Regions from separate parts of the Homo sapiens genome. Here all the other regions are reported to be linked to region 1. Evidence: microRNA targets listed by miRTarBase, many of them from high-throughput screens and not tested one by one. Region 1 holds a microRNA gene; each other region holds the end of a gene's coding sequence.
What was found. The annotated mature microRNA hsa-miR-5581-3p reads UUCCAUGCCUCCUAGAAGUUCC and lies in region 1 at 4,999-5,020, opposite strand. An mRNA with a match to its seed (bases 2 to 7 or 8) in the 3' UTR can be bound and repressed. Matches are read on the target gene's strand: a 7mer-m8 pairs with bases 2 to 8, a 7mer-A1 pairs with bases 2 to 7 and ends in A, and an 8mer does both.

Region 1 (7,635 bases):
AAGATATTTCCATTTTAATTTACAGAAAATGGGTCCCACAATCAGCTACTGCATAGGGCATAAGCTATAACAAAGACTATTTGGTTAAGAAAAATCCACATTCTTCATTAGACTATGTCATATTTAGTTGTTTACCCAGATATTATCAAGCAAGTATTAAAAATTATGAGCACACATTTTTGCCCTAAGGCAAACTTAGCTGACTCTAAAAAGAAATGTATACAGCAGCTACAAAAGCCATATAATTTTAAAACAATTCCAAAACTACATGTTAAAAAGACTGAAGTAAGAGGGCATGCTCTATGTTAATGTGTTAGTTCTGTAACTATATCACTGAAAATTACTGAGACACATGGTGATTAACAACAGGAAAGAGACTAGGAGTTTGTATTTCTGAACACGAAACACAAAATAAATTAAATTAATTTCAATTTTTAAATCTTTCCAAAGCAAAATATCAAGATCTTAAGCTATTATTCTCCTTATGAAGCAAAGCCAGAAAATCAATTTAAATATGAGTTAAAGTAAAGGTTATCTATTTTAAAAGAAATTAAAATGCATAAAAGTGAAGTTTACTTAATTTTGCTTAAGTTATTAAATAAAATGTTACCTCCATCACGTTTTTCTGTTTTTAAAAAAAACTTCCCAGCCTAACCTAATATACATACCTACAATTAAACAGATAAACTATGGGTTAGAAAGGTCTCAAAAAGGCATACTGGTGTCTACACACTAAACACAGCACAAATACTAATTCAAATCAAACTTACTCAAAGTCATAATCAAACATGCCAGACGGGCTGAGGGGCAGCATTTGAAAGGAAGAAAGCAATAGAAATTAATATACTAATTGAATAAATTAGTCGATTAGCCACCCTAGCAAGAATTGTAGAAACAAAATCAGCTTTAAGAATCTTAAGCAACAAAGTATCAAACATCAAAGCACCAAAGATTTTGTGGTCAGAAGATTCCCTTCCTTCAATGGATTTCATATCAGAAGACTAGACTATGAAAGAAAAAGTTATTTCATTAGAAAACTCAGACACCTGGAGCCCTTTTATTAGCTGCCAAATTCGGAGTTAGAACTTTTAAAATATTTAATTGTATTGAAAAATATAATTAGGGCATTAGAAGAAACAGAGAAAGAAAGGTTTAGTTATATAATGAAAGGCACTTTGAAGAGAGTGCTAACAACTCAGCATAATATACTTTCACTAAAATAAAAAACTACAACACAGTCTAAACTTTAAAAAAGGAAAACATTTCACAAATTTTTACTCAAGTTATATGGGTTTGTTTGTTTGTTTGTTTGTTTGTTTGAAACGGAGTCTCGCTCTGGCACCCAGGCTGGAGTGCAGGGGCGGCGATCTTGGCTCACTGCAAGCTCTGCCTCCCGGGTTCACGCCATTCTCCTGCCTCAGCCTCCCTCAAGTTATATGTTCTAAACATGTCCAGGGAACACCATGCTCCTTTTCTACAGCATTCATCCTAAAAGCCCAAAGTTGAATGAATAAACTTCAGTGGTGGAACCTTGTTCCAGAAAATGAAGAACAGTATTGCTCTGCCACCTAAGTAGGTGATGGCAATTAACTGTCTATATCAGGGCTATAATTAAGAAACACAAAAGTCTGCAGCACCCGTATTTATTTATTTATTTATTTATTTATTTTTTGAGACAGAGTTTTGCTCTTGTCACCCAGGCTGGAGTGCAATGGCGCAATCTTGGCTCACTGTAACCTCCGCCTCCTGGGTTCAAACGATTCTCCTGTCTCAGCCTCCCTAGCAGCTGGGATTACAGGCGCCTGCCACTAGGTCCAGCTAATTTTTGTATTTTTAGTAGAGACAGGGTTTCACCATGTTGGCCAAGCTGGTCTCGAACTCCTGACCTCAGGTGATCCATCTGCCTCGGCCCCCTAAAGTGCTGGGATTACAGGCATGAGCCACTGCACCCAGCCTGCAGCACCCCTATTAAAACAAGGGAAAGCTGCCATCCACAAGCACCCAAGTCTCAGGGATCTGGAAGGAGCAGTACAGAGAAGGAGACCATTTTGTGCCATCACCACTAGCAGGCCATGATCTGGGCAGGCCTCCAAAGCAAACATTAACCTGGAGCATGACACCTGCTCCTTCACCGGCTCCAACACCTTCCAGACTAAAACAATAAGCAAATGGCTACATTTAGGTGCTAAAACAATATGCAAATGGCTACATTTCCTCCTAGACAATGTTTGCAAGAGTAAAGCTGGAAGAAAGCTTAATGTCAATATCTCTCACAAAATAGTTTCACTTTAGACATTTGGGAGAGTATACAGTAGGTGTATGAAACTAGGAATTATCAAATATTTCACTTTCAGCCTGACTTGACTTTGTTCACAAATCAAAATAGACTGTATCTAGTTAATCAAAACTTTACAGACTATCTAAAGTAATTTTTTATAGTAACAGAAACTTATAAGAGTAGCTATGTTATTTTTTATTATTATTATTATTATTATTATTATTATTATTACTATTACTGAGACAGGGTCTTCCTCTGTCACCCAGGATGAAGTGCAGTAGCTCACTGAAGCTTCAACCTCCTGGGCTCAAGCAATCCTCCAGCCTCATCTCATCTTTCCAAGTAGCTGAGACTACAGGCATGCCATCACGTCCAGTTAATTACTGTGTTTTTTTGTAGAGACGGGAGTCTCGCCATGTTGCCCCCGGCTGGTCTCGAACTCCTAGACTCAAGTGATCCCTCCACCTCAGCCTCCCAAATTGCTGGAATTACAGGTATGAGCCACAGCACCTGGCCACTATATGGTATTATTTCAACTTTTTCTTTAAAGATACCAGGAATGACATACTGTTCAGGTATCATGTAAAATATAAGAATTCAGAACAATGTGATCACTTATGGATGCTAAAAATTATTTGATAAATTTTTATATTCTGGCGGGGTGTGGTGTGGTTCATGCCTGTAAACCCAGCACTTTGGGAGGCCGAGGCAGGAGGATCAAGCCTAGGAGTTCAAGACCAGCCTGTGCAGCATGGCAAAACCCCATCTCTACAAAACAATACAGAAACTAGCTAGGCATGGTGGCACATGCCTGTACTCCCAGCTACTTAGGAGGATGAGGTGGGAGGATTGCCTGAGCCCAGGAGGTCAAAGCTGCAATGACCCATGATCTCACCACTGCACTCCAGCCTGGGCAATCCAGCAAGACCTTGTTTCAAGAAAAAAAAAAATTTCATATTCCTGAAGAGGGCAAATTCAAGTTATTTCCTTTTGCTTAAGTGCCATATTTATTTCCACCTTTGCTCACCACTAAACAGTGTCTGGCACACAGTAAGTACTCAAACATTTGCTGAAATAATTTATTATTGACTCATCTCACTATATGGGGTATGGCACACTGGAGGATAAACATGTACTATACTGGGTACAAACTTAACAATGTACATAGACACCATGCTCTGTCCCCACCCCAATCTGCCAGCCCTACTGAGATATCAGTCAGCAGTAGTAAGGGACTTGGAGCAGACACAATTCCTGACTAAAGATGGCAGGAGTCCAAGAGCCTTAACTGACCGCTCGTGTGCCATTCAGGCACACTGAATTTTGCTTCCCTAGAAAGGAAACAAATCAGCTTCACTCTCCTTTCTTGGGGCAGATGAGTGCCTAAGGCCAAGGGAGATCAGCCAGATATTAAATCAGAGGGAAGACAAAAGGACAGCAATAAAAAGCAGGATTCTGCTTTCCAAACAGAAAACACTATTTGCGAAGCAGTAACTAATATCGAAGATTTTTACAACTACTACTATTTTTCTGGAAGGAGATAGCTCCTAGGATAGGAAGAAGTATTGTTCCTATGGAAATGTGCTAGAAACTTGCAAGAAGAAAATGAAGTTTAGCTCCTCTTTAACTCCTTTTTATCAGTCACCAGCTAATAACATCATTAGTGGAAATGAAGAACTACCTGAAATAAACAGCTATCTACAGACTATTAATCAGTAATGGGAAAAAGTCCCCGAAACTTTCAAAGAGTTTCCTCCCTACTCTAGACACTATGAAATAAGAAAATAATCACTACTTTAAAATGACACTAGGCCAGACACCGTGGCTCATGCCAGTAATCCCAGCACTTTGGGAGGCCGAGGCAGGTGGATCACCTGAGGCCAGTAGTTCACACCAACACAGTGAAACGTGTCTCTACTAAAAATACAAAAATTAGCTGGGCACAGTGGTGCACGCCTGTAATCCCAGCTACTCAGGAGGCTGAGGCAGGAGAATCGTTTGAACCCAGGAAGCAGAGGCTGCAGGGGCTGAGATCGTGCCACTGCACTCCAGCCTGGGTGACAGAGCAAGACTGTCTGAAAAAAATAAAAAATTAAAAAAAAATGACACTGGAGTAAATTTAATAAAAGCAATACAGAGCATGACATTTAATTATCTTGACAATTAAAAAAATTTTTAAGAATATATTTCTCTGTTATTCGTGATAAGCTAGCACCAGTCTTACTACAGTTGGTCAAATAACCTATAGCCTTTCAAAAATATATGAAGAGGTAGATATACAATTTTTGCTAATTCTTACTACAGTTATGCGATTAGGATGGTGACTTCTGGTTTGCAGAAAAATGTTAAGCAGCAGTCCTCAGTCATTATTTGAAGGAAATACTATTTCTGCAGTCTAGAAAACACCATTACCATCAACAAGAAAAACTCTTAAAATAATTGAAGAACCAGCTGACGCCAATCAAGGAGGTTCAAATCAGGTAGAGTTAATCCTACATTACCCCCAGGCACTGTCATATCCATGAAGCTAACAAGTTTAATACCTTGGGTGCATGAAGGAATACCCTACAGATTTGTAAACCAAATCCAGAAGCAAACTGGAGAACAGGGAATGCCACCCATCCCTTGCATTGCCCCCTTTCACCTGCTCAGCACGCAGTCTTCCAGGAGGAGTAGAACGAATGTACAGTTTCTAGAATGAGAACTCTTACCCTGGCTTCGGAACTTCTAGGAGGCATGGAAACAGGTATGTATAGGGTCTCCATTTCTCCTGGAAGGCTTGAGGCCAGCAAAACTCCTTACTCTAGAAACCGGACATTATACTCTTTAGGTCAAGCTGCATAATTTCCAATTATCTGAGTTAACAATCCCCAGCATGATCATACAAACCCCAGGCAGAGTGAATGCTGAAACCCTCTCTGGGTGACACCTGGCCTCTCTGTCCACTGACGTCATTCCTATCTCATTATGTACTGCAAAAAAACATGGTGCACCAATGTTACACGTTACCTATGAAGACACTCTCATATTTTACAGGCTTTATACTGTTCCTCCAGTATCTGAAGTCAGCATATTGCTGAGAAATACAGAAACAGAAAAATCACAAGCAATAAAAAAAACTTGTATTTAAAGAGAAAAAAAGGCATGTCAAATCAGTTCTCTCCATCCACAAAGAAATAAGAGTAGGCAAAGATCAGAATTACCAGCAGAAGACTTTATCCCACTTTACAGCTTCCCAATAAGTACCAGTGGCATTTTTCAAATACTATTACACAGATTCCATTTCTATTTCTCCTTTTCCTCTTCTAAAAGTATTCCATATTCACCATATGAAACAAGGTTTTTATGGAATAAAACTATTCTACACTAGAAACAGTGAGAAGAATGTCCTGGAGTCTTCCTTGAGGGTTACTCTAATGCCCACCAATTCCTCCCTTTGAGCAAATTAGCCCGTTCACTTGGACCTAATGACTTTCTTGCCATCAGCAACAGAAAGAGTCTGCAGCAATCCTAAAGAGTTTTTATTCTAGGCAATTCCCTTCACAGCAATGGTCATGGGAGCTGCGGGGGTGGGATCCCTGCCACTGACCTGTGCCGGTTTTTATTCTTTCGCTTTTTATGGCTGCTGTGGTGACTCCCTGAGGAAGTAGAAGAAGCAGCCTTCTGAGGTTTCACTCCCTGCACAGATCCATCCAGATCCTCAGGGTCCTCCTGGCTGGGCTCATTTTCCTGATTGTGGAAGTCTGGAGAAGTGTCACTTTCCGTCCCACTTCCTGGCTCCCCTGAAGGAAATAAAACACAAGTTTCCAAATGCATCATCAGTACTCCTCAGGCAATCTGTCCATCAACATGAACACTAATAGGTAGAAAAAAACCATTCCCTATCCTCTAATTGACAGAGAAGATACATGTTGACAGAGAAGATACATGTTGACAGAGAAGATACATACAAAGGATCCAAGTGACCAAAGGTCCTGAAAAAGCATGTAATCTGAAACAATGTAACCAGAGAGAACAGCTCTAAGGGCAGTTTTTGTTTTTATAGAGATGAGAGTCTGGCTGTGTTGTCCAAGCTGGTCTTGAACACTTGGCCTCAAACCATCCTCCTGCCTCAGCCTCCCAGAGCACTGGGATCACAGGCATGAGATACTGTGCCTGATCTATAGTCTTAAAAATATATATGTTTACACAAGTTGTTATTGAGTTTGCTTTTATTAAATGTAATCTACAGTGATGTACAAAAAAAACTACAGTGACTGTACAAAAAAAAAGGGGGGGCCAAAGAGGGAGAAGACAGCCCATTCCTGAATTACTCTGATAAGTTTTCCATTGTTTTTTCTTGTTTTTTTTTTGTTTGTTTGTTTAACCTTTAAGCTCTGTTGAACTTGAACCTCGTAAGTCTTTTTTTTTTTTTTTTTTTTAAGACAGGGTCTCACTCTGTCACCTAGGCTGGAGTGCAGTGGTGGAATCTCTGTTCACAGCAGCCTTCAGTTCCTGGGCTCAGATGATCCTTACACCTCAGCCTCCCAAGTAGCTGGGACTGCAGGTGCCCATAAGCATAAGCCCTGCTAATTTTTCTATTTTTTGTAGAGATGTGGTTTTGCCATGTTGCCCAGGCTGGTCTTGAACTCCTAGGCTCAAGAGATCCACCTGCCTCAGCCTTCCAAAGTGCTGAGATTACAGGCATGAGCCACCACACCCAGCCTGGTAAGTTTTATTTTATTTCATTTTATTTCGAGACAAGATCTCACTCTGTCACCCAGGCTAGAGTGCACTGGTGTGAACTGGTGTGATCATAGCTCATGGCAGCCTCAAACTCCTGGGTTCAAATTATCCTCCCATCTCAGCCTCCCCAGTAGCTGGAACTACCGGCACATGCCACCACACTTGGATACTTTTTTTTTTAAAGATGGGGTCTTACTATGTTGCCCAGGCTGGTCTCAAACTCCTGGGCTTAAGCAGTCCTCCTGCTTCAACCTCCCAAACTGCTGAGATTACAGGCATGAGCCACGCATTCTGCTAAGAATACTTTTAAAATGCAGTAATAATCTTCAGCTGACACATATTCTCAATTTTAAAACATCACTGTAGATTACCTTAATAAAAGCAAGCTCAATAACAACTTGTATAAACATATATATTTTTAAGACTATAGATTAGGCACAGTATCTCATGCCTGCAATCCCAGTGCTCTGGGAGGCTGAGGCAGGAGGATGGCTTGAGGCCAAATGTTCAAGACCAGCTTGGACAACACAGCCAGACCCTCATCTCTATAAAAACAAAAATTAAAAATTAGCCAGACATGGTGGCACATGCCTGGAGTCTCAGCTGTTCAGGAAGCTGAGGTGGGAGGATCA
Region 2 (7,635 bases), not on the chromosome of region 1:
CCACAGCACATTTGAAAGTCCACATGTGTTTGCCCCACTGTGGTCCAGGACATGTGTGAGCCACACTCAGTGGACTTGCACCTGTGACATGTTGGTCAGCGTGGCGGCCGTCAGCTGGGTGTGGAATGCATCTGATTGGAGCCTGGCACCCGGCCTACCATGATTGTGATTCTCTGGGGCGAGTCCTGAGTGTGGGCAGGGCCTCAGGCCCCCAAGAGGGCTGTGAGCAGGCACCTTCCTGTGAGGCACGATGCCACCATGTGAAGTTGTGTGGGTCTTTGGAGAGTTCTGGCAGGTTGAGGGCCTGTGCGTGTGGGACCCAGGCCTGCCCTGCCTGCTGCCGGCCATGTTCCCTCTGCCCAGTCATGTTGACAATTGTGGCCAAATTCAACATCGGGCCTGTTTCCTGCACCCACGTTGGCACACACTGAGTTCAAGACAGTTTCTGCAGAAATGAATCCAGAGGTGTTTATTTCTGGCACGTTGGATCAGACGTTCAGAGGGTGGGCGTCTTTCTCCATGCACTTCAGCTGGATCAGTCAGTGTCAGCCATTGACTTTAGCAACAGGGAAATGAAAGACTTTCCTCAATAAGAAATGGGACTTTCTCACGCTGGATGGCACAGAGCTGGCAAACATGAGGCCAGTCCACACCAAGGCTTTGCCTGCAGAAAGGCTGCACTGTGGCCAGCGGGGGAAGCGGAGGAGACACCTGTGGACACCCTCCCCACAGGTGGGCACACCTTTGCGCAGGCCCAGTGTGCGTTCTGAAGGAGAGCCCAGGGTGGGGTTCCGGGACTGAGGTGCAGCCGTGTCCAGGGTGGGCTTCTAGCTCTGCCGCTGGGCGGAACTGGGGTAGGTCCCAGGGTGGGGTTCCAGGACTGAGGTGCAGCCGTGCCCAGGGTGGGCTTCTAGCTCTGCCGCTGGGCAGAACTGGGGTAGTCCCAGGGTGGGCTTTTAGCTCTGCCGCTGGGCGGAACTCGGGTAGGTGGGAGTCCTCACTTCTCTGCAGGGTGGTGAAGCTCTCTGGGTAGTGTGAGCAGTTCTCAACGTGCACCTTGGAAAGCGCCCGTTTTGAGGTTTAGCTGTGGCCAAGATAGATGACTTCATTTTGTTGCTTTTTGTTCTTAACATGGGGAGATATTTAGAAAACATGTTTGGCTCTTGCTGGGGAAGCAGTGCTGTTCCGTACAGTGTTTTACAAGCCGTGTTTCCTTAGGATTGAAAGAAGGTGGCAAGAGGAAGAAGCAGAAGCAGAGAGAGGAGTCGAAGAAGAAGAAGTCGACCAAAGGCAATCACTAGACCGGACTTGAGGCACGCGGTGCACCCCCAGACGCTGGCGCTCCACCGTGCTCGGCATGCGGTCGTGCACACGCGCTAGGTAGCAGCGTCGGTCAGGACTGTCTCGAGGCCACACTCGCTCGGCAGGATTATGCGATCACGGATCAGTCAGAGCAGGGTCAGGAGACGGGGCTGACGGCACGGGTGGCGGGGACAGACGTTTGGGACTTGGCCGCGACTCTCTGCTTCTCTCCAGCTCTCAATCTGCTGCATTTTCCTCTAGTGCTTCCGGATCCTCTTCATTCTTTTCGGCTACTCAACCACTCCGCATGCTGCTGGAATATTTCTGGCTTTAGAAGTACAGGAGGGCGCAGATGGCTAACTGAGTAACATTCATGAAATGAGGCTTTCTGTGGCGGCGTAGTGTTTGGAATTAGAAGGTAATTCAGTAGAGTGTAACTTAGAGAATATTGCAAGTGACACATTGAATCCTGCCCGTCAGGGCACCTTTTCCTCAGAGCAATCCGGCCACACGAATAGAAGGCTGTCGTGAATCACATCAGATGTAAAATCATTCCTTCTGTTTACTCTTTTAATTTTCATCCTTTGCAGGTAGTGCAAATTCAACTTCAAATATGGTGTAGGTTTTGCTAGATTCCATATTTTTTTCTTGGATTTTTGCTAATTATTTTTAGCAAAAAATTTTTGCTCAGTGGCACTCTCCCTAGTGTCCATGGGTTAGGGCCATGCTGGGGAAAACGGGCCGGTATTTACACACGCGCAAAACACCCAGAGACGGCACAAGGAGGTTGAACTCATGTTTCAGTTCGCGAACATTGACTCCTTACGAAAGTCACTTCATTCTAACTAGATGCGCCCACTTCCGGTCATTATTTCGTTTGCATGATGTATTGCTTCTTCACGTTTTGTTTTTATTGAGCACGGAGTAGAATTCCAGGGCTGCCTTGACTTCTTCCCTGCATGCTCCCTCCCAGTGACTTTCCTTCCCTTTCACATGAGGATCTGCCGTTCATGTTGCTTTCTCCTTTGTCCTCTTGGACTTGAGGGCATTGTGAAAAGCTTTGCTGTGATTTAAAAATGCCAGCAATTTTAATCTAGCAGTGTTGAAGCTGGGAATTTTTTGGCGCAATCCATGTAGCAGTGACCCAGGCTTGGGAGCCAGAAACAAGTGTGACCTGGGATTTTATTTAACACAACTGTTGCCAAAGAGTTGGCTTTGTTTATTTGGTTTTGGCGGGGAGAGGAGTGGTATTTGATGCTTTCTGTGGACAATGTAACCCTAAACACATCATGTATTTTAAATGCCACCTACATAAATAAAACATAAGCATATTGAATACAGCTCGCCTGCTGTCCTTTGTAAGCGCCAGTAAGTTGCACCGTTAAGACTGACTAGAAATAAAAGCAATTCTTCAACATTACGATTACAAAGGATGAAAGTGGTGTTTTGCAGGCAGAAGCCTTGCTTCCGAAATGCGTCACTGTAAGGCGAAAACATGACTTTAAAGCTAACACCCCCGGCTGGGCAAAGTGGCTCACGCCTGTAATCCCAGCACTGTGGGAGGCCAAGGTGGGCAGATCACCTGAGATCAGGAGTTCAAGACTAGCCTGGCCAACATGGTGAAACCCCATCTCTACTAAAAATACAAAAAATTAGCCGGGTGTGGTGGCACACGCCTACAATCCCAGCTATTCGGGAGGCTGAGGCACGAGAATTTCTTGAACGAGGGAGGCGGAGCTTGCAGTGAGCCAAGATCGCACCACTGCACTCTAGCCGGGAGACAGAACGAGACTCCGTCTCAAAAAAAAAAGGCCGGGCACGGTGGCTCACGCCTGTAATCCCAGCACTTTGGGAGGCCGAGGCGGGTGGATCACGAGGTCAGGAGATCCAGACCATCCTGGCTAACACGGTGAAACCCCGTCTCTACTAAAAAATACAAAAAATTAGCCGGGCGTGGTGGCGGGTGCCTGTAGTCCCAGCTCCTTGGGAGGCTGAGGCAGGAGAATGGCGTGAACCCGGGAGGCAGAGCTTTCAATGAGTCCAGATTGCGTCACGGCACTCTAGAGAGAGCGAGACTCTATCTCAAAACAACAACAACAACAAAAAAGTAACACCCCAACGCACAGATGAGGTGGAAACTCCCGCAGCCTTCACAGGAGGCATTGAGGGTCCCGAGAGGAAAACCTCGTCGACTCACCCTGGCTCTGCTGGCGACCAAGACTGGGCCAGACACGCGCTCAGTGCTGACATCCTGGCGTCCGGCCTTCCTGGTGACAGGGGAAGGCGGTGCAGTAAGTCGCCTTGCGGGCCGGGGTCGGGGGTGTTTTTAAAACAAGATTAGTCCTTCTCAACTGCTCAGATCCCAGAATCTGCTGCTGAGATTGTGGCGAGGGAGGCAGGTGGTTCGACAGGTTTAGAGGTGACTGTTGTGCCCTCAACCCTGCCCACTTGACCCTCAGGCCGTCCCAGGAGCGTGGCCGGGCTGCCTCAGCAGGGGCACAGCTAGGGAGCGTGGACAGAGCCGCGAGCGCCTTCCAGACAAGCCAGGCCACACACAAGACAGGCTCTTGGCAAAGGGGCCAGAGCCCCGTCTTCACACGGCCTGGCTACCGAGTCAGCTCATGTCACAGGTGGGTCCTCCCTTCGCTGAGAGGGAGAGACCCCGACCCCAGGAGGAGAAGGGAGCTGGTGTCCATGGGGCCCGGCAGGTGCATGGCCAGCAGGTAGGCATCTGCTTCTCAGGTGAGGAGGGGTATTGGGGTCTACCCGACCCCTGCGCCCAGCGCCCCATCCCCCTAGGGCGGGTCCAGGAGCTCTGTGCTGCAGATAGAGCCCGCGGCTGCTTATGCCAGCGTCTGCTGAGGGGGTGGATGCTGCAGATAGAGCCCGCGGCTGCTTATGCCAGCGTCTGCTGAGGGGGTGGAGAGGGAGCCCGGCCCCTGGGTGTGCTCGGCAGCTGCTGAGATGATGGCAAGGGGGAGCGCGGCACCTGTCGTCGTCACCTTTGTGACGTCCCAAGCACTGGGGGGCCCTGCGGGGGGTGGGGAAGGCAGTGAGGTGCTGGTGGGTGGGAGGCAGGGGGGCTGTGGACGGTGTGGCAGGGACTGCAGTTGTGGGACTGGGGTGGGGAGTCCTGGGGGTGTCAGGACCACAGTGGGGCTTCCTGGCCACCCCACTGCCAATCCCAGGGCCACCCTGTACGCCATTCACTTTTGTCAGGGGCATAAAGGGCTGCAGAACCCACTTTCTGTAAGTAAATACATTTAAACATCCTGAAACGTTCACACCCTAACCCTAACCTGGGGGTCCCACGTGCCTTCCCTCATGTGGGTTGCACAGCTGGAGACAGAACCAGGACGTGGCGCCGTCACCAGGGAGAGCTCTCTGCTCTTTTGTTCATAGGCCTGGAAAAGTGGGACCATGACGTGAATAACCACACCTGTGTTTAACACATTTTGTTTTGTTTTTGTTTGTTTGTTTTTTTGCAATGGAGTCTCACTCCGTCACCTAGGCGGGAGAGCCGTGGCACCGTTATCACACCTCAGAAAATTAGTAATTCCCCCATGCCAGCTACTTCTCAGTCCATTTTCAGAAACTATTTACTTTTATTCTTTTCTTTTTTGAGGCAGAGTCTCACTTTGGCACCCAGGCTGGAGTGCAGTGGTTCAATCATAGCACACTGTACCTTGATCTCCTGGGCTCAAGCGATCCTCCCACCTCAGCCTCCCAACATGCTGGGGCTACAGCTGTACCACCATGCCTGGCTAATTTTTAAATTTTTTATAGAGACAGGATTTCACCATATCATCCAGGCTGGTCTCAAACTCCTGGGCTCAAGCAATCTGCCTGCCTCAGCCTCCCAAAGTATTGAGATTACAGGCGTGAGCCACTGTGCCTGGCCCGTAATTTTTTTGTTTGTTTTTTTTTTTTTTTTTTTTGCAGGAGACTGGAGTTTTATTGTTACTCAAATCAGTCTCCCCGGGCTGTGATGTTTTTAAACTAGACTTCAGTCAAGACTACACATTGCATTTAGTCGTCACGTGTATTAGGTCTCTGTACGCTTTTACCTTTTATTATGAAAAATCTTAATGTCCAAATTGTGTGCTTGGAACAGGTAACTGTAGAAATGAATCCCTCTCCCTGGCCCAGAGGTGCACAGCGCCCGCCCCTCTTGTGTATCTGCACCCCCTCCCCATCATGTTTTTTTGTTTTTGTTTTTGTTTTGAGACAGAGTCTTGCTCTGTGGCCCAGGCTGGAGTGCAGTGGTGTGATTCGGCTGACTGCAACTTCTGCCTCCTGGGTTCAAGCGATTCTCCTGCCTCAGCCTCCGGAGTAGTGGGGACTACAGGCGCCCGCCACCGTGCCCGGCTAATTTTTGTATCTTTAGTAGAGACGGGGGTTTCACCATATTGGCCAGGCTGGTCTCGAACTCCTGACCTCAAGTGATCCACCTGCCTCGGCCTCCCAAAGTGCCGGGATTATAGGCGTGAGCCACCGCACCCGCCATCATGTTTTGAAGTAAGTCCTGGGCTATGCATGACTTCATCTGTCAATATCTGACCTGCCTTTCCTCCAAATTTCTTAGCTGGAATTCTGTAAAGACGGATTTTCCCTTATCCACTGCTTGGGTCCCAGAGGTACAGTTTCTGCTTCAAAAGGCCCCGCACATTCTTGTTTTTCCCGAGTCCCAGTGTCTAGAGCCACTGGCTGGCTCCCTGGCTCCTCCGAGGACCCCGAGGTGACCAGCGGCTCTGTTAGTTCCATCGTGAGCCCACAAGCTGTGATCGCACTTGTGGTGTTTCACGGTTGAGGCCATTGCCCTTGGAAGCTCGGATGGCCGCATCCTGGGGCGACAGACTCCTCGGTGCCTGCAGTTCGTGCTGGCCTCAGGGCCTCGGCTGCTCTGGGTCCTGCCTGGAGACCCCAAGGCTGCCTCTGTGGACGGAGGGAGAGAGTATTTTTTAAAGAGAAAATTCATATTAGGATATATAATATAAAGAATTTATATTAATATTTCCAGTTCAAATTTAGGATTACAGGGTTTTCACTATTTAGATTTTATATCAGATTTTTTTCTTTTACTCTGAGAATTTGAATTTTTTTTTTTTTTTTCAGATGGTCTCGCTGTGTCACCCAGGCCGGAGTGCAGTGGTGTGATCTCGGCTCACTGCAACCTCCAACTCTCGGGTTCTAGTGATTCTCCTGCCTCAGCCTCCCGAGTAGCTGGGATTACAAGTGCCCACCACCACGCCCGGCTCACTTTGTATTTTTAGTACAGATGGGATTCTACCATATCAGCCAGGCTGGTCTCAAACTCCTGGTCTTAGGTGATCCACCCGCCTCGGCCTCCCACAGTGCTGGAATTACAGGTGTGAGCCCACCACGTCCAGCCAGATTTTTAGTTCTTAATACATAACATAGTTACTTATTTGACATATAGAAAATTTGATATATAGAAAATATAATAATTTAAAAATTTAAAAAAATTTTTAAAATTCAGAGAGAGCTCTTCGATCCTTTTTCTCTTTCTTTCTTTCTTTTTTTTTTTTTTTTTTTTGAGACGGAGTCTCGCTCTGTCGCCCAGGCTAAAGTGCAGTGGTGCGATCTCGGCTCACTGCAACCTCCGCCTCCCAGTTCAAGCGATTCTCCTGCCTCAGCCTCCCGAGTAGCTGGGATTACAGGCATGCACCACCACGCCCAGCTAATTTTTGTATTTTTAGTAGAGACGGAGTTTTGCCACGTTGGCCAGGCTGGTCTCGAACTCCTGACCTCAGGTGATCCACCCGCCTCGGCCTCCCAGTGCTGGGATGACAGGGGTGAGCCCCCGCGCCCGGCCCCATGGTTGTTCTCAGGCTGTGACACTGGGATGCATAAATCTTGAGATAATCCCTCTTGGTGTGGCTAAGCCAACAACTCCGTAGACCCTTAGCTTCATTTATTTTCTTTTACTTTCAACGTCTAGGATTTAAGAAATGTTTGCTGTAAATATGTGCATGGTTCCAAAGCAGAATTCACAAACAAGGCGCCCTCAGGGGAGTCCGGCTTCCGCACCTGCCCCAATGGGCTTTCATTTCCATTTGTTTTTATTTCCTTCCATTTCAATACATTAAACATAAACAAAAGTTACTTTTATTTATAACTTAATTACATAATATTTAAATAAACATGAGGCGATCCTTCACTCCCGCCTTTGCTTTTCCTTCCTGGGCGTCTGGAGGGCCGTGCGCCTCACCGGCAGACCTGCCGCATTCCGGACCTGCCCCTGCCCCCGCCCCGAGTTGCTCACCTGGATCCTCTGCCCCCTGTGCAGGTCCTGGGGGCCGTAGGACCTGC
Region 3 (7,635 bases), not on the chromosome of region 1:
GAGAAGAGGCTGAATCCCAGGGTCATGGAGGAGAGAAGGGGCTGGGTCCCGTGTCATGGAGGAGAGAAGGGGCTGGGTCCCGTGTCATGGAGGAGAGAAGGGGCTGGGTCCTGGGTCACGGAGGAGAGAAGGGGCTGGGTCCTGGGTCATGCAGGAGATGGGGTCAAGCCTACTTTAGCAGGTAGGAATGCTCTCTAAAGGGAGAGAACAGTAGATGGATGAGGCAGAACTTTTTAGTGGGGAAGAGAAGGATGACAGAGCTCTAGCTGGAGGGTGTCACTCTTGCACTAATGGAGGAGATGGAATTTTCTATTGTGATTATCTAGTGAATGCTCATTTTCCCCTTCTTCCTGACCAACAGACCTCCAATATTATTTGGAGCAGGAATGTGCCCAGCTAAAACACCAAGCTTCCCACCCTCCTTTTTAGCCAGCAGTGGTTATGTGACTTAATTTCAATCATGGAAAAATCATAGATTGGGGTTTCTGGGAATGCTCTTTAAAGGGAGCAGTCATAAGTGTCTGTACCCATTTTGCTCCTCCCCGTTTCTCCTTCTTTCAGCTTACAATGCCACACAGACCTCCAGAATAGGTGGAGGGAACCAGGAGGAAAAGAAATTCATTTGAAAGTCTCTCTCTTTTGGAAAAGAATATGCTAGACTCATATGTACAGCTCATACGTACTTAATAGAAAACCTAAGGATATGGCTTTGATGGCTGGCACTGTAGCAGCTGTATTGTGACCATGAAGTGACCTTGAGGATGAGAGCCAGTGCTAAGAATGGCAGAACAGAGAGAAGGAAGCCAGGACATTGATGACACTGCAGAGCCACCACAATGTCCCGGGATTGCCTTACCTCTGCACTTGTTTTGCATACAGAAAAGACATTTCTTTTCCTAAGCTGCTGTGATTTGGGGATTTTGTTATGAGTAGCCAAGCACAGTTCCTCTCTGGTGAGGCTGGTGTGTGTGTGCCCACGCACGTGTGCATGTGTTAAAAGGTGGCATATAGAACATGCTGGATTAGGGACTTTAAATTTCTGCATTGCTCTAAAGTAGAATTGAAACTTGAGAACCACGTCTGAGGAAAGCAATCTGGGTATCTACGATCAGAAAACCCTCATCCTTATACAGATGGGTGTCCACAACGTGCATATTCACTGAGTGCAAGTCGATTCCTCCCTTCCCCACACATCTTGTTGACCAAGACGATATCTACCTTATAAAGGCTGAAATTTACATTTTATGCCATTAGCAGTTTTTATTGAAGGAGAAAAATTTTTTAATTCATCTCAGGTTTAAGATAAATTCTGCAAACATTGATTAAAACATGAAAGGCACTTAAATAAGCATACGTATCTCTGAAAACATGAAATGTTATGTACATGTGTTCACCATTGTTTGGATTTAGAGCTTTGAATTCACTAAGAGTTTAAAATGCTTTTTTTTTTTTCCATGCCAAAACGTTTGACTGTGAAATATCAACCCAGAATGCTCTGGGAAAAAGTTAGCAAGGCTTCAACCGTTTTTTTTTTTTTTTTTAATTGCAGGCTAAAACCATCTCTATTCATATAGAACCCAGAAAGCATGTCTCCTTGGACATGCCATGTGGCCTCTCGGTTTCACCAGGCATCTTGAAACATCGAGGGCAAGTAAGAGAGTTGTTCATTCATACCTTTATCACCAATATCAAGTTTCTTTTAAAAATTCAACACTTCCTGGGTAGAAAAGTCTCTGCAATAGCACAAGATGCTTGTCTGCTTTTCAATCCATTCTGTGTGTAATTCCTGGGGTTTATGAGATCAAAAAATAACTCCAGTTGTGGCTATTTATCTAGTTTTGTGGCAGCTGCAAATTCGGTTGCTCCAGAAACCATCTAATCTTCAATCTCCCAACTACTTTTAATGGCTGGATTAATGGACTAACACCTTACATGTGAAAATCCATCTTGGCTCTATTATCAGGACCATGGACAATGGGCAGATGGACAGAGGATTTACTGATTTACAAACTATTACCATCTTTGACATTTATTTGAAAAAAAAAAAGACGCTTCAGATCGTTTAATATTTCAATGATAACTTAGTTTTATGAGAGAGAGAGACGTTTTAAGGGAACAAATGAGAGGCAGTTTTTTTTTTTTTTTTTTTTTAAATGAGGTACCTTGGAAAATAGCATACAACTCCACATGCAGACCTCCAAAATAGGTGGAGGGGACCAAGAGGAATAGGAATTCATTTGAAAGTCTCTCTCTTTTGGACAAGAATATGCTAGACTCCCACAGCTCATGTGTACTTGATAGAAAATGTAAACATCAATTTGATTTCGGCTCAGCTTCAAAACAGTAGTAAGGCATCAATTAGAAAAGAGTATTTAATATTTGTTCTCCTTTATTCTTTTCTTACCTGGTCAAGAACTAAATGAACTCAATGTATTCTTGTGGATGGATGAAGGGCAGCTCCTTCTGGGAAGATTCCTTATAATATCAACGCAAACCCCGATCCCTTCTGGTGAACTTAAGACCCTAAGCCGAGGCTGAGAAGCAGTTGGTTCCTGGCATGAAGAGGATGGTTGTAGGCTGAGGTCTGAAGGGAGAAGTCAGGTTACAGAGAAGCGTTTGCTGCAGGGTAGTCAGGTGGGCAGAGACCTGAGACCCTTGGGGAGTAGCCCGCCAGGCTGTGCCCTTCAAAGTCTCTGACCAGTTCTGGTTCCAGCATTTTCTGGGCGATGCCATCAGAAGCCCCTGTGTCAAGGACACCTACTGCCAATTTTGGCAAGTTCATTTTTCTTGCTGTTGAGTCAGACAAGAAGGCCTAGGCCCAGGAGGTGAAGAGCTTAGGGGTTTTCAAAGCCACAGAAGGCCTGGCCCATCAGGTCTCCGCAGGAACATGGCTCATAAAATGGGTTTGCTCCTCACTTGGAACCACAGCTGGCAATCCTAGACAGAGCCGGTGAAGGCCGCAGTAAGCTGGGGGGTGGCGTGGAACTCTGCAAAGACTCCTCCCTTGTGCCATTCTGGGCCAGAACAGAGATTTCGCATTTTGCTGGCTTAGGGTGGGGACATGGCATTGTCCTCACAGGCTGAAATCATCACATTTGAAAGCTGGAACGAGCATCTTTTGGTTGGGCATAACGCAACTGCTGGGCCAATTTCTGCAGAACGGAGTGACAGGTCACTGTGCCCTCCTGGATGCAGTCTGTCTGCCACCTTCCTGCAGCATCCCCCTGCTTCCTGGGGCCCTCCCGGATGCAGGCTTTGTGCCGCCTTCCTGCAGCATCCCCACTTCCTGGGGCCCTCCTGGATGCAGGCTGTCTGCCACCTTCCTGCAGCATCCGCCTGCTTCCTGGGGACCAGGGCACTCACGCTCAGTTCAGCCTTCAAGTGCCGGGAAGCCTGTGGTTCCCTGGAGCACTCCTGGGAGAACGAACGCAGATGAATTTTTAAACAGCAGAATGAGTGTGTGTTTGTGTGTGTTTGATAATGGTCCAAGCTTTAATAGCATGGTAAAATATTTATTTTACTTTTTATAGCTAGCATGTAATCAATCTCTAACACACTGAAAGAAGTTAGAAACACCAACGTCTACTCAGCCACAGCTAGAAGGAACCATTCAACATTTATAAACATAAGTATTTATATTTATGTACATGTCACATATATGTTCGTGGGAAATGCAGAGCCATCACCTCGCCAGGTGAGCTGCCCCTCCGACCATCCCTCCTGACAAACAGAAGTGGGCGCCCCAGGGGGCATCATCGCTCATTCCTCTGATGCTGGGTTTCTTTTTCAAGCCACAGAGGACAGGGCTGTGGGCTTCTCTCTGGTTTTGGTTTTTAAGACATTAATTATCTAGCAAATTGGCCCATTCAAGTTAATCTCTCTCTTGACCCTGAATAGCCTTGATTCACTTCACCAAAATTCCCAGTCCCCTATTGGATAAATGATGCCAAGTGTGTGCCAGGGACAGGGTTGGAGGTGGGGAAATTGATAATAAATATTAAGTAAATATCCATTATGTGAAGACAAGTGAGTCGTGATCCTGGCTTCTGGGAATTTTTCACAGTGAGGTGGGAAGAAGGGCTGGTCACAGGAGAGTGGCAACCACTGAGTTAGGAAATGTTAGAAGCGGGAGGCCTCTGAAGACCATGATCTTGCTTTCCAGGGGAATGAGCTGAGAATGGACTGGGCCACACGTGGGACCGGAGTGAGGGCTAAGCCGGATTCGCGGTCACCCATGGAGCACCGTTCTCATCAGGGCCAACTCCTTCCTGGGGCCTCTGGGGAGCAGGTGGAAGAAAGCAAGGAGCAGAGACGGTTTGGGAAGTTGTGGAAGCTCCTTTGTGGGGCTGTCACTTTGGGCTCACAGGTAGCGTGGACAAGGAGAATCCCTGTGAGTTGGTGCCTGTGAGCGTGTGCGGTTGTGTAAGGAGGGCACTGCCCCATGAATTACACATTGCAGGTGGGTACAAGTAGTTAGGTGGTTCAGAAAATCAAAAATGGCTACATAGAATGGACCTATTCCATTTTCTATACGTGCATGCAGCATGACAATAAAGATGGCTCGAAGACATCACAGTGCAAGAACTCTGCAGGCCCTTTCAGCATGAATTATTTTGTGACCTGTGAATTGCCTTCATTCCAAATAAAACTTGTGTGCTTTTCTTTTTCCTATCTTCTTTTCTTTTATATAAAATGGCAACTCTTTCTCAGGAGTAATAGCCTTTTTCCATAAATGCAAATCACTTGGGTTACTTGTATCATTGGTCAATGTGTCTTGTCTTTCATATGGTTATAAGGAGCAAGGCCATGGCTTTGAACTTGAGTAGCTTTAGCTGTTAGATTTATGGTCTGGAAAGAAGCCAGGAGAGGAGTTGCTGTGTCCCCTGTGGCTGCCCCCATAGTGACACACTCCCTAAGTCCAGAGCCAGTTCGTTCCCTTCTAGGTGACCAATGAAAGTGAACAAAGTGGTCATTTTCTTAATTTCATTCTGATCAGTGTCTAGGAAGGATGATGACCTACATGATCTCAGCTTAGACTGTAAGCCGATTTCTCCTCCTCATTTTCTGATACCTTTACTAGGACCTCAAGTTGCACTTCTGGGATTGAGTGACACGTTAACACAGAAGGAAGCCCAGAAGACGCCCGACAGAACCTTCTCCCTGAGCGTCCCCTCCCCTCTCCCTACTTCCGATCAACTGTTGCACGGCAAACTGCAAACGTAGAGCAAATTCCACTAAGATGGTGTCAAAAAGAGATAATTAAAGAAAATAAATGATGGAAAACTTGCCTCTTATCTAAGAAATTATTCTATAAATATCTCCCAGTTCAAAGATTTGACTTTTGGTTGTCTGGGGACCATTCCTCGCTAGGGACATTTCAAGAAAAACTCTCCCCATCTGGATGACTTTGTTTTCATTTATGCTATTAAGGATAACCGTACGCAGATCCAAAATAACAGAGGACGTCATTTTATTGGCTGTCCACGGGAAGTTTCATCACACACGGAGGTGAAGACTGTGGGGGTTGTGGCACACAATATCTCAACACGAGACCTCATCGAGCGGCCAAACAGAAGGTGAAGTGACACCCGACACGACGGAACCCCAGCCGCCCTCTGCAGCCCCGGTGCCACCTCTCCACAGACGCCTCAGCCCAGTAAGCTGAGTGATGACACTGTCCATTAGTCTCAGTTCGTTGCACTGTCTTCCAACAAAACAGCACTTGAAAATTCACAAAATTAAAAAAAGAAAAAGAAAGCAGCACTTCCTTGGAAATAGCAACACCACTGTAACACAGACGGCAGCGTGGCATGCAGATCCACACCTGGTCGGTTTTTTCCCTTTAGGATTTTTTTTTTTTTTAATTAACAAATGGAATGGCAGGTCTGTTTCAAATATTAGTAGCATAACACATAAGTGCAATTGCAGTCTGGCCACAAGCGTCAGAAGCCTTCCGTGTGTCTGTCACAAGGGCGGGCAGACACACTCCGATTCCACCCCTGGAGGGTCACCAAAAGAAAGCAGCCACTTCTCTATTTCCATTGTTGTCAAAGCACTCAGGTTGGGGAAGAAAATTCAAATGAAACCAAGCTCTCAGCATCCGGGGCCAGCCACCCTGTGCCATCCTAAGTGGTCTCTGTACCCCAGACCTGGGGCTGTCATCTCCACCGTGGCATTGGCTGGGAAAGTCGCTGTGGGACACACCCCTCCGCTCACTCCTGCTGCCCATGGAGGAGCCTCTGGTGTCCCCCGGCCTGGGGCCATGTGGGTCACACGGAGCTGAGCTTCACCAGGCCGCGCACAGAGTCCTCATGCAGGGAGTCCTGGCTGGCCAGGCCCAGCACGTGCATGGTGCGGCTGTGCGCCAGGGGGCTGCCCGCCGCCAGTAGCCTGGGGGGCGAGGGCGCCTCATCGGGCGTCAGGAACTGGTGGCCCATGTGCTCATCTTTCCGGGGCATCACGTCCGCGAGCGTGGCCTCGGCGAGGTTGGGCATGGAGGCGGGCGGTGTGGGCGGGCCCAGTGTGAGGCTGGCGCAGGGCGTGCCCAGGCCAGGCTTCCCGGGCAGGTGCAGCTCGTCGCTGGTGAGGCTGGGCTCGCTCTGCAGCAGGGGCGTGGCTGCAGCCTGCAAAACGAATTTGGTGCTCTGAATGCACTGGTCTTGGTCGCACTGGAGAGCGGGAGGCGCCAGCAAAGAGAAGGTGGAGAGGAGGGGGCAGAGGTGGGGAGGGACAGGGATGGGGACAGGGCACGGGCGGGGAGGGTGGGGTGCGAGAAGAGAGAAACCGTTAGTGACACCTCAGTCAGCCAGGCAGGGAGCGCCTACAGTGGTCCAGGTGCATTGGGAGAGACACCCAGCGCCTGGTGCTGCAATTGCCTCTGCTCAAATGAAGTCACCACGGGTGCCCAGTCATAACATGCAGCCACTGGTTATGAAGCCAGTGGTCTTGGTTCCCAATTTAAAGGACATAATTAAAAAAATCTCTTGGACAGAGTCACAGGCCATCTACAGCAGTGGGTGGCTGTTTCTTGTATGCTGAAAACCATTTTTTAAACCACATTGTTTTAAAAATACAGGAGTTGTACACCCATGTTCATAGCAATGTTATTGATAGTAAGTCAAAAGTCAAAAGTGACTCAAGTGTCCACTGATGGATGACAGCAGGGACAAGGTGCGGTGTAGACACACAGTGTTACTGATTCAGCCTTAAAAAGGAAGTGCATTCGGACACATCCACGAGATGGGTGGACCTTGAGGAAAGCATGCTAAGTGAAACAAGCCAGTCACAAAAAGACGAATAACTGTGTGATTCCACTCAAACAAGGTCCCTGGAGGGTCATGTTCTTAGAGAGAAGGAAGAATGGTGGCTGCTGGGGCGGGAGGAAGAGGGAGCTGGTGTTTAAGGCATGCAGAGTTCCAGCCATGGAAGATGAAGAAGCCCTGGAGATGGGTGGTAGTGGTGGTTGCAGAACAACATCAACGGACTTAATACTACTGAACTTATACTTACAAATGGTTAAAGTGGCAAATATTATGCCATGTCTATTTTACCACCAAAAAAAGAAAAGACTGTTTGGTAAAAGCCTAGAATTCCCCACTGCTAAATTTCCAACAGCTTCAAGAGCCATTCCCGAAG

Region 2: miRTarBase lists DNAJB6 as a target of hsa-miR-5581-3p. The part of its 3' UTR that is shown has no 7-base or 8-base seed match.
Region 3: the mRNA of ZDHHC14 is a reported target of hsa-miR-5581-3p. Seed matches in the 3' UTR shown: 8mer at 1,451-1,458.

Annotation. Positions count from the first base shown.
Region 1 is chr1:37,495,937-37,503,571 of GRCh38, forward strand. MIR5581 (microRNA 5581) reads right to left here and starts at 5,058; the gene lies at 4,999-5,058. It overlaps MEAF6 (MYST/Esa1 associated factor 6), which reads right to left. Exons shown (of 7, transcript NM_001270875.3): 5 at 5,868-6,060.
Region 2 is chr7:157,414,798-157,422,432 of GRCh38, forward strand. It overlaps DNAJB6 (DnaJ heat shock protein family (Hsp40) member B6), which reads left to right. Exons shown (of 10, transcript NM_058246.4): 10 at 1,219-2,642. The coding sequence ends at 1,301. Among named protein-coding and RNA genes, the nearest start is that of DNAJB6, 82 kb to the left of the region's middle.
Region 3 is chr6:157,671,757-157,679,391 of GRCh38, reverse strand. It overlaps ZDHHC14 (zDHHC palmitoyltransferase 14), which reads right to left. Exons shown (of 9, transcript NM_024630.3): 9 at 1,235-6,668. The coding sequence ends at 6,270. Among named protein-coding and RNA genes, the nearest start is that of MIR3692, 150 kb to the right of the region's middle.